Regions from separate parts of the Homo sapiens genome. Here region 2 is linked to region 1. The links come from fine-mapping of genetic effects on gene expression. A gene starts in region 1. The other region holds a variant in brackets. All regions are shown on one strand. Distances are between the middles of the regions.

What was found. PIP is the estimated chance that this variant, and not a neighbour inherited with it, causes the effect.
Region 2: its variant is the best candidate, but not a certain one, in a credible set for the expression of DUSP3 in fibroblasts (GTEx, PIP 0.54).

Annotation. Positions count from the first base shown.
Region 1 is chr17:43,775,835-43,781,206 of GRCh38, reverse strand. DUSP3 (dual specificity phosphatase 3) reads left to right here and starts at 2,230. Exons shown (of 3, transcript NM_004090.4): 1 at 2,230-2,407. The coding sequence starts at 2,283. CFAP97D1 (CFAP97 domain containing 1) reads right to left here and starts at 772. Exons shown (of 6, transcript NM_001136483.3): 1 at 621-772; 2 at 18-88. The coding sequence starts at 744. RefSeq lists a silencer at 2,050-2,739 and an enhancer at 2,672-2,966.
Region 2 is chr17:43,886,214-43,891,585 of GRCh38, reverse strand. All of the region lies in intron 3 of MPP2 (MAGUK p55 scaffold protein 2), which reads left to right. Among named protein-coding and RNA genes, the nearest start is that of MPP2, 19 kb to the left of the region's middle. The variant C/T (reference allele first, on the strand shown) is at 2,535.

The sequences.
Region 1 (5,372 bases):
GCAGCAAGAACAAATACCTGTAGTTTGCTCAATTTTAAAATGTGATTTGTGTGCGCCACTGGAGGTTTGGTATCAACAGTAGGCTTCGCTAGAGAAGGGGGATAAAAGGGAACAATGTTACATCACAGGAATTCCAGTAGCGGCCTCAGAAAACCAGCACTAGACAATGTCCTTGACTAATGAACAATTTCGAATTAGGACCTTAATGCGACTCAAGAAGTTTGGTTTGATTTATCAAATGAACATCTCTGGAGAGTTTTGAGCAGAAACAAAAGAATAGTGAAAATAAAATTTACAGAGATAAATGTCCTTCTAATCCAATGAAAGAGCTTCTCTTCCAATCTTTTTCCAATATTATTAGCCTGTCTATTGGCTTCTGAAGTCTTATCCCCTTTCTAACGTACTTCGGCTTTAAGGAGTTTAAAGGAGTATTTCCATCCAGTGAACTCCCTGGTGGAAGATACATTTTGTTATTGGTGCTAATGCCCTCTTCCCCAAACTCAGCAGATAAGGCCATATCATCCCAAAGCTGTGACCTGGTCTGGTTTCCTGTTGATCTCTTTATGGGGTACCATTCCAAAATCCCTAATAGCAGTGTCCAGCCCAAACTGCCCACATACCTATTTGTATTCTATTCTTGTGAGATACGTAGTGGCCAAAGTCCAGTTTCTTTCTGAAGGTTGTGCTTTGCCTGTGATTAGAGACGATAACAGGGTAGGCCAGATAATCCAGGGAATTGTTCATCTTCTCTTCCTAGTCTCACTTCAGAAATGAGGTACCCAGACTCCTCTGTGAGGTGCCTAGCTGTCCCCATGACAAGCTGTCATAGTTACCCAGTTATGACATCAGGGACAGGTCCCGGGAAGGGAGTAGGAGCAGCAGAGCATGGCTGGCTGCCTCTGGGCTTGTGTTTTTAATGCTAACCTCGGCTCAAGTCAAGATGAAGGTCAAGGAACTCGAAAGCTTTCCCCGCTGCTTAGAATGCAGATGCTGCCAGCCAACACCAGAAGGAAAGAAGTGGTGCACCGGGAGGGGTGGGCAGGCACGGGGTGGGGTGAGGGATACAGAAATTCCAGCCTTGGTTACACATCTTGGGCTATCAGCTAAGTAGTCTCCACTGCAATAGCTCCCCTGAAGGTGCAAGACCACAAGTTTTGGAGGAGGAGAAAGTTGACCCTAATGATAATCGGATCCAATTCCTTTTGCAAATGAGGAAACTGAAGACCACAGCAGCAGCAACGTTACTCAAGAACCAAGTTGGTGGCAGGGCTGGGCTCAGGATGTGGGGTTCCTGAATTCAAGGCCAAATTTGCCCTTTTGCAGGAAGGAAACTGCCAGTTTTTCATGGCAGTAGGGGAGGGCAGCTTTCCTCCAGTACAGAGACTATCTTTTGTACTTAGTGGGAGTTCAGGAAATGCTGAGTGGCTTATGGTGGGCTGGCATCTGCTCCAGGAAGGGCTGCAGGAGTCTGATTTATCTCCACCCCAGCACAGGGTATAGCACCCACTGGGTGCTCAACGCATTTGTTGATGAAGGACTAACACCTATTGAGTGCTCGCCATGCAGTGCTGGGTGCCTTCTTTGAATGTCACATTTAACCCTTCCAGCAACCCTAGAATTAGGTACCATTACTATCCCGCTTTTTTTTTTTTTCCCTGCAAACAGGCTCAGGTTAAGTAATTCCTCAGAATTCCAAACCTGACTGCTTTTAAGCACGACGATGACTCTCAATGAATGTTGAAAGCAGATGCGCCCCAGAGTAGGGCTTCTCAGACTTTGACCGTAGGGACCTCCTGGGGTCCGTAAAATGTCCACTCTGATCCAGCAGGGCTGGGCTGGGGCGGGGATTCTGTCAAGCGCCCGGGTGGTGCCTCCACTGCAGGGAGCCGCTCACGAGCCGAACCCGGCGGTCCCTGTAATCATGAAAGACTGAAGCGACCCCTAGGTGTACCTCCGCCACGAAATGTTTATTGGGCCCTGCATTTAATTCAGGGAAGGAAGTTACCGCGCTTGCCAGTTTACAAAGATACACAAACGGCCTGGACCGGGATGGGGCGAGGACCCCTGAGACTCCAGGGCGGTGGCGTCTTCCCCCCGGGACGCGCCCAGGAGTGGCGCGCGGGGCCCCCGCGTCACGGCGCCCGCGCTCCGCAGCTCCCGGAGCCCGGCGGGCCCGCCCCAGGGGCGGGACGGGGCGGCTCCCGGCGCGAGCCCCCGCCCAGCTGATCCGCCGCTCTCCGCCTCGCTTGCTCCTGCCGGGCGTGCAGGGCCCCGCCGCCGCCATGTCGGGCTCGTTCGAGCTCTCGGTGCAGGATCTCAACGACCTGCTCTCGGACGGCAGCGGCTGCTACAGCCTCCCGAGCCAGCCCTGCAACGAGGTCACCCCGCGGATCTACGTGGGCAACGCGTGAGTCCCTTTCGCGAGCCCGGCCCCGCCGTCCCTCTCGGGACGCCCCGCCCACCCGAGGCTGGGGTCGGGGTGTCGCGAGTCTTGGGTTGGGGGAGCCCGGGCGCGATGGCCCCTCCGGGAGCCACAGCGGGGGCTTGGGAGGGGCCTGGAGTCGACGCCTACCCCCGCGCGTGGGGCCAAGGAACTGGAACCCTGCCTGGCCGGGCGCGGCCCTTCCCCGTGGCGGGGTGCACGGAGCCCGGGTGGCGCCTGCCCGGGTCCCAGCCGCCACCCGCTTGGGGCTTGGCCTTGGGCGGGGTCGGGGCTACCATGTTCACTTAACAGGTGACCCTCGGTCGCCCGGCCGGTCTCCTGCCCGCGCGTCATGTGACAGCTGCCTGGTTCTGCAGTGAGGTCACCGCGGAATGTCTGCCTTCGCCGCCATGGCAACGGGCCGACGTCACAATTCGGGCATGGAATTTTCCCGGCCCGGCAGTCCCGGATCAGGGAACCTAAACACCCCAAATGAGCGAGTCCGGGGAGCTGGGCCGGGATTTCCAGGCCCCCACCTTCCAGATGTGATTTGATTTACAGGAGATTCTAGAACGGTCCAGTGATAACCCCCCTAAGGACCTGAGCCACCACCTAGAAAAGGCTCTTGACCTTTCACCCCCAGGCTCTGTCACCCAGGCTGGAGTGCAATGGCGAGATCTCGGCTCACTGCAACCTCTGCCTCCTGGGTTCAAGCAATTCTCCTGCCTCAGCCTCCCGAGTAGCTGGGATTACAGGCGCCCGCCACCACGCCTGGCTACTTTTTGTATTTTTAGTAGAGACGGGGTTTCACCATATTGGCCAGGCTGGTCTCTTGGCCAGGCTGGTCTCAAACTCCTGACCTCATGATCCGCCCACCTCGGCCTCCAAAAGTGCTGGGATTACAGGCGTGAGCCACCGCACCCGGACAGTAAGAGATTTTTTTTAATTTAAATTTTAAATTTTTTTTCTAGTAAGAATGTCTAATCAGCAGGAAAGAACCAGTGTTAACATTCTGAGATGTGAAATAGGAGCCTCAAGAAAGAATATATTAGCATGCCTGTACAGCCTTGGAAAGCCTCAAGTTGGATTTTCACGATACTCTGAGGACCCAGTTACCAAAATCCTAAGCTTCATGGCTCAGCCCAAGGATGGCATGTTGAAAACTCAAAACTAACCCTCCTCCCATTTTACAGAGGAGGAAATGGTGGCTCAGAGTGTGTGAGGGACTACAAGGACAGGGTCAATGTCTTGTTCATGTATGTATTTCCTGACCTCCGCTATGACCTGCTGTTTAGCCTGCCAAGGACTGCCACGGAAATGGGGGTCATCATGGAACTAGAAGGGGTCCATCAGGCCCCAGCCTCATGGGGACAGTTCTCATCCATTCCATCATTCATTCACCAGTCTGAGCACCTGCTTTATGTCAGGCACTGTACAATGTTCATTCATAGTAGAGATAGTAATAATGATAATTGTAAATTTTTTGAATGTTGAATTATTAATAGTATTAGAGGCCTGGCACGATGGCTCACGCCTGTAATCCCAGCACTTTGGGAGGCCGAGGCGGGTGGGTCACCTGAGGTCAGCAGTTCGAGACCAGCCTGACCAACATGGTGAAACCCTGTCTCTACTAAAAATACAAAAATTAGCTGGGCATGGTGCCTGGCGCCTGTGATCCCAGCTACTCCGGAGGCTGAGGCAGGAGAATCGTTTGAACACGGGAGGTGGAGGTTACAGTGAGCCAAGATCGTACCGTTGCACTCCAACTGGGCAACAAGAGCGAAACTCCATCTCAAAAAAAAAAAGTATTAGAGAAGGGAGATGAATGGGAGTGACTCTTCAAAGTGTTTTTTTCTATCAGCCACTGCTTCACAGTCTTGCGCGGTGTCCTAAGCAGGAATAAACAGAGTCCCACAGTGTCAGCCAAAGGCTTCAGGAATTGGAAAGCTCTAGAGACACCCTTCCTCTTGCACCAAGCAGCAAGCAGGCCTTGTTAGCCTCAGGAATCCCGCTTGCTTGGGCAGGTTGGCCATTCAGCTGTCATCACTTCCCAAGTGGAAACCAAGGTTGTACACGTCTGGTGTAGCCAGAGTGGCAATTGCTGATGGCCACTGTAGAAAATACATCCCTTGCCCTCTAAGCACCTCTGACCTTGACTTGGCCAGGGGTGTGGGGGTTCCTCAACAGGGAGGATCAGTGAGCACCAAGCACCAAGAGGATTTGGGCTCCATTCCCTTAACAAAATCAGGGCCGCAGCCACGTCCTCACAAGGCAGAGCCAGAGCCTGTGTGAGCCACATGTGCCAGGCCTTGGGGGTTTTGCAGCAGATGTGGGCATGAGGGGCAGAGTGAGGTGGAAGATAGAGCAGGGCTGGATGTCGGGAGAAAGGAGGTCTTCTCCCAGATCTGCCACCAGCAGCACACGGGGCCTGTGCCCATCCCTCTGCTCATCCTGTTGGGCCTGAGTTCAAGCTCTGTTAAGCAGGGATATTGCCATCCTTGTTCCTCACAGGGCTGCTCGCAGTGGGCAAGCAAGATCACACAGGAGGTGGCATTTTATAAAGTATAAACTGCTATTTGGACTGGGATGTTTTGTGAGATGAAATAAAGGGGCCTTTTCACCATTCAGACCAATTATTATTTTTATTTTATTTTATTTTATTTTTCGAGACGGAGTCTCACTCTGTCACCCAGGCTAGAGTGCAATAGCACAATCTCAGCACACTGCAACCTCCACCTCCCGGGTTCAAGTGATTCTCCTGTCTCAGCCTCTGTAATCCCAGAGTAGCTGGGATTACAGGCATGTACCACCACACCCGGCTCACTTTTGTATTTTTAGTAGAGACGGGGTTTCACCATGTTGGCCAGGCTGGTCCCGAACTCCTGACAGGTGATCCACCTGCCTCGGCTTCCCAGAGTGCTGGGATTACAGGTGTGAGCCACTGCACCCG
Region 2 (5,372 bases), 110 kb before region 1:
ATGATACCTATCCCTCAGAGTCGTGGTGGGGCTAGGTGGAGGTTATGGAAGTGTAAGTTTTTTTTTTTTTTGAGACGGAGTCTTGCTTTGTTGCCCAGGCTGGAGTGTAATGGTGCAATCTCGGCTCACTGCAACCTCTGCCTCCCAGGTTCAAGCGATTCTCCTGCCTCAGCCTCCCGAGTAGCTGGGATTACAGGCCCACCATCCCCGGCTAATTTGTGTATTTTTAGTAGAGATGGGGTTTCACCATGTTGGCCAGGCTGGCCTTGAACTCCTGACCTCAGGTGATCCACCCACCTCGGCCTCCTCCCAAAGTGCAGGAATTACAGGCATGAGCCACCCCGGCCAGAAGTGATTTTTGAATCAGGAAGAGTTGTTATAATCTTAGCTTCAGACTAGAGTTCACAGGGAGGCCTCTTGTTCTGTGGGGAGGCTAGGGTGGAAGACCTGGGAAAGCAAGACAGGGCCCTAGAAGAATAAAGGTCTAGGGAGGTCACTAAGATAGGGGCTCTGACAAGGGGACATGACAAGCAGAGGGTGTAGTGGTGAGGCCAGTGTATCAGTTCACTTTTGCTGTGTAACAAACCATCGTGCTGTGTCGTGGCTTAAAACAACTGTGATTTAATTCCCCTGATTTTGTGGGTTGGTTGGGTGGTTCTTCTGGCCTGGGCTTGCTTAGCTGGGGCTGGGTGGTCCGGGATGGCCTCACTCACATGTCTGGTGTCTTAGCTGGGAAAACTGCAATGTCTGGGATGGCCAGACCCCTTTCCATGTGGTCTCTCATCCTCTAGGAGGGTCTCTCATCCTCAGCCACCTTCACATGGTAGTCTCACAAGCAAGGAAGGACAAGCCTCCAGTCACAAGCACTTTCTAAGCCTCTGCTCACATTTGATAATGGCCCATTGGCTAAAGCAAGTCACATCTGTCAAACCCAGATTAAAGAGTTCCTTTACTTTCTGACACACTACTCTCTGGGACATCTTTTAATTTAACTATTTAATTATGAACCAGGGCTTCAAATAGGAATTCCCTGTCTTTTGCCATGATCGGGGGGTTGGAGTGGAGGGCAGAGGGAAAACTTTTCAGTGAAATGACTGTGTAGTGTTTGCATTTGCAGCCTGCTACAGCTCTGGATTGGGAGCAAACAGAACAGAGTGCAGGCTGGTGCCACTATAAACTAGCTGTGTCTCCCACTTAAGCTTCTGGTCTACCATGAGCTTGAGCCCCTGCTTTGCTGAGGATAATTTTCAGAGCAGAATGAAATGAATGGCTACCACAGAAATTCAAATCACTCTTCTAGTTCTGGGCCATGTGTCACTTAACATGAAAAAGAAGAATAAGTCTTAGCAAAATAATAGTGAGTAAAAAAGCAGTAAGGGAAATAATTGTTCACTTAATGTTAAGTGAAAAAAAATCAGACCCCAGGGATGGATAAAATCATGATTCCCCCCTTTTTTTATGTCATAGAAAATACGGCCGGGTGCGGTGGCTCACGCCTGTAATCCCAGCACTTTGGGAGGCCGAGGTGGGTGGATCACCAGTTCAGGAGATCGAGACCATCCTGGCTAACATGGTGAAACCCCGTCTCTACTAAAATTACAAAAAATTAGCCAGGCGTGGTGGTGCATGCCTGTAGTCCCAGCTACTCGGGAGGCTGAGGCAGGAGAATGGTGTGAACCCGGGAGACGGAGGTTGCAGTGAGCCGAGATTGCGCCACTGCACTCCAGCCTGGGCAACAGAGTGAGACTCTGTCTCAAAAAAAAAAAAACAAAAAAAAAAACGCATTTGGACAGACACAATTCCCTTTTTATTAACTATATTCATTTCAGAATTTCAGAAGTATGTAGAATACATACAGACACATTACAACTCTTTAACTGGGAAGCCAGGGAATGACAAACACACTAAATCAAGATGGTGCTTTCAGCTGGGCATGGTGGCTCATGCCTGTAATCCCAGCACTTTGGGAGGCTGAGCCGGGCGGATCACCTGAGGTCTGGAGTTCAAGGCCAGCCTCACCAACATGGAGAAACCCCGTCTCTACTAAAAATACAAAATTAGCCGGGTGTGTTGGTGCATGCTGTAATCCCAGCTACTCGAGAGGCTAAGGCAGGAGAATCACTTGAACCCGGGAGGTGTAGGTTGCAGTGAGCCGAGATTGTGCCATTGCACTCCAGGCTGGGCGATAGAGCGAGACTCTGTCTCAAAAAAAAAAAAAAAAAAAAGATGGTGATTTCTGCAAGTGGGAAGGGTGAGTGGGGCATGTGGTTAGATGTAGGATATTGACAAGAGCTTTGTTTTTTAGTTTGGGTGGTGGGTTCTCTTAGATCCTTGTTATATCATTTAAAAAATCTAATTTAGGCCAGGTGTGGTGGCTCACGCCTGTAATTCCAGCACTTTGGGAGGCCGAGGCAGGCAGATCACCTGAGCTCAGGAGTTTGTGACTAGCCTGGGCAACATGGTGAAACCTCATCTCAACTGAAATATAAAAAATTAGCCAGGGGTGGTGGCGCGTGCCTGTAGTCCCAGCTGTT[C/T]GGGAGGTTGAAGCACAAGAATTTTTGAGCCCAGGAAGTGGAGGTTGCAGTGAGCCAAGATTGTGCCACTGCACTCCAATTTGGACTACAGAGTGAGACTCCGTCTAAAAAAAAAAAAAATTATTTGTTCAGCCTACTGAATTGTTGGTTTTGTATTTGAATGATTAAATGTTTAAAGTTTCCTCTGGGCTATGAGGTTGAGCTTGGAGAGCTGTGCTTTCATATCTGTGGGTATAAAACGTCCAGGGGTGGCCACAGGAGGAGGAATGGATTAGCCCATGGTGGGAATGTCATTAAGTCAAAGATAGGAGGTAAGCAGCTTAGGAGGCACCCTGGCTTCCCCCTTGATCACACACGTCTCCTCGGAAAACTTGTCCTCCATCCGTGGACCAGATAGTGCTAAAGTCAAAATGAGTGACTTCTCTAATGCTCACATCAGGACACCTGTGCCAGAGCTGGCTCCTGTTAACCCAAAAGAGCCATGCAAGGGTTGCCATGGTGAGATTGTTGCTGCCTGAGTGCCATTGTTTATTCTTGACACTCAGTTATTTGGGCTTTGATTCCAACATTGTCCTAGGCACAGGGTAACAGAGCCAGAGCTGGGACGCCTCCCTCACTCTGGGGCTCCATAGGCTGGGCCAAGCTAAATGACTGAAAGTCACATAGGGGTCTGTGGAAGACCAGCCCTCTGGGGCTTGTTCCTTTCCCCAAATGCTACTCCTCTGCCCCATCAGTTGTCTGTTTCCCCAGTAGGTTGTGGATGTCAGTCTAAAATGCTGCCCACCCGGCAGAGGATGGTATGGGAGGCTGTGGGGCCATGTGGGGTGCTGTTCCCTGGCCTGTTTGGGAAAAGAGAAGGCAGAAAGCATCTAACCTTTATTGAGCACCTGCTGTCTGCCAGGCACTATGTCCATCTCACCAAATCCTCACAGCAGTCTTATGAAGTATTACTCAAATCTCACCATCTCATGGCTAAACAAATTTTCTATTATGAAAAAATTTAAGAATATATCCTGAACCTCCATCACCTAGCACCCCACTTCAACATTCAACAAGTCATGCATAATCTTGTTTCATCCACACCTTTACCAGCTTCCCTCTCTCCTCCATTGTTTTGGAGTACATCTCAGCCATAATAGATTGTATCTGCAAGTGTTTCATTGTGTATATAAACTCCTGGGCTCAACTGAAAAGGATTCTTTAAAGCTACACTACTATTGTCACACCTAAAAAAAAAATCAAACAATAGTTTTCTTTTGAATTTTTTTAATTAAAAAAATTTTAAAAAATAGAGATGGGGTCTTGCTGTCTTGAACTCCTGGGCTCAAGTGATCCTCCTGCCTTGGCCTCCCAAAGTGCTGGGATTACAGGTGTGAGCCATTGTGCCCTGCCATGAATTTTTAATAAATGGTATTGGAACATCTGGATAGTCATTTTGAAAGATATCAAAGTGTATTTATTCCTCACATCATATATCAGAATAAACTCCAAGCGGATCAGAGATCTCTATGTGAAAATATAAATCATACACGTCCTAGAAGAAAACAAGGCTCTGTATATGGGAAAAGCCCTCCCTTAAAAAAAAAACAAAAAAACAAAAAACTATGCCTCAAAATTCAGATGCATGAAAGATTATTAAATTCACCCACATTAAAAAATTTGTTTTTTGAGCCAGGGTCTTGCTCTGTCACTCAGGCTGGAGTGCAGTAGTGCAAACAGTGCTCACTGCAGCCTCAATCTCCTGGGTTCAAGTGATCCTTCCACCTCAGCCTCCCAAGTAAGAGTAGCAGGGACATCAGGTGCATGCCACCATGCATTAAAATGAGGATTAAAAATGCTCAGGTGAATTTTTAAAATATTTTGTAGCAACAGGGGCTTCCCATCTTACCCAGGCTGGTCTTGAGCTCCTGGGCTCAAGCAGTCCTTCCTCCTTGACCTCCCAAAGTGTTGGGATTGCAGGTGTGAACCACTGCACCTGACCTAAATTTTTTTTTTTTTTTTGCATGCAAAAACACCACAAGCAGAGTCAAAAGACAAGTGACAAACTGGGGGAAATCATTTACAAGAAATATCACAAAGGGCTAATTTTCCCAATAGAGAGAAAACATTTTTTAAAATAGGGAAAAGAATAAAAACCAAGACCTGACAGAAAAATTGGGAAAGACATGAGTAGACAGTTCACAGAAAAAGATATACAGATGGTCCTTAATCATATGGAGAGATGTTTGACTTTACTCATAATAAGCAAAATGCAAAGTAAGCCCCAATGAGAGATCATTTCTCCTCCATGTGATTGGCAGACATGCAAATGTTTGATCAACACTCTGGTGGTGAGCTTCAAGAAAATCCCTCATACAGTGCTAGCAGGAGAGCAAACTGGCCAAAGTCCCATGGAGGGGAATTTGTCAATATCTAAGAAAATTACGTATGTATTTGCTGCTTGACCCAGCAAGACTTCTAGGAATTTACATGGAAGATCTTCTCCACAGATATAGAATACTATGCCGGAGTCATTTACTGCAACATTATTTGCAATAGCAAAGTATTAGAAACAACCTAAATACCCATGGAGACTGGTTGAATAAATTACAGGAATCCAGTCATGCAATGGAGTCAAATGCAGTAATTAAAATAATAAGATGGGCATGGTGGTTCATGCCTGTAATCCCAACCTGGGAGGCAGAGGTTGCAGTGAGCTGAGATCGCGCCACTGCACTCCATCCTGGGTGACAGAGCAAGACTCTGTCTCAAACAAACTAACAATAATAATTAATAAAGGAAGATCTCCATGCAGTTTCATGGAGTGATTTCTATGACATATTTTTAAATAAAAAGCCA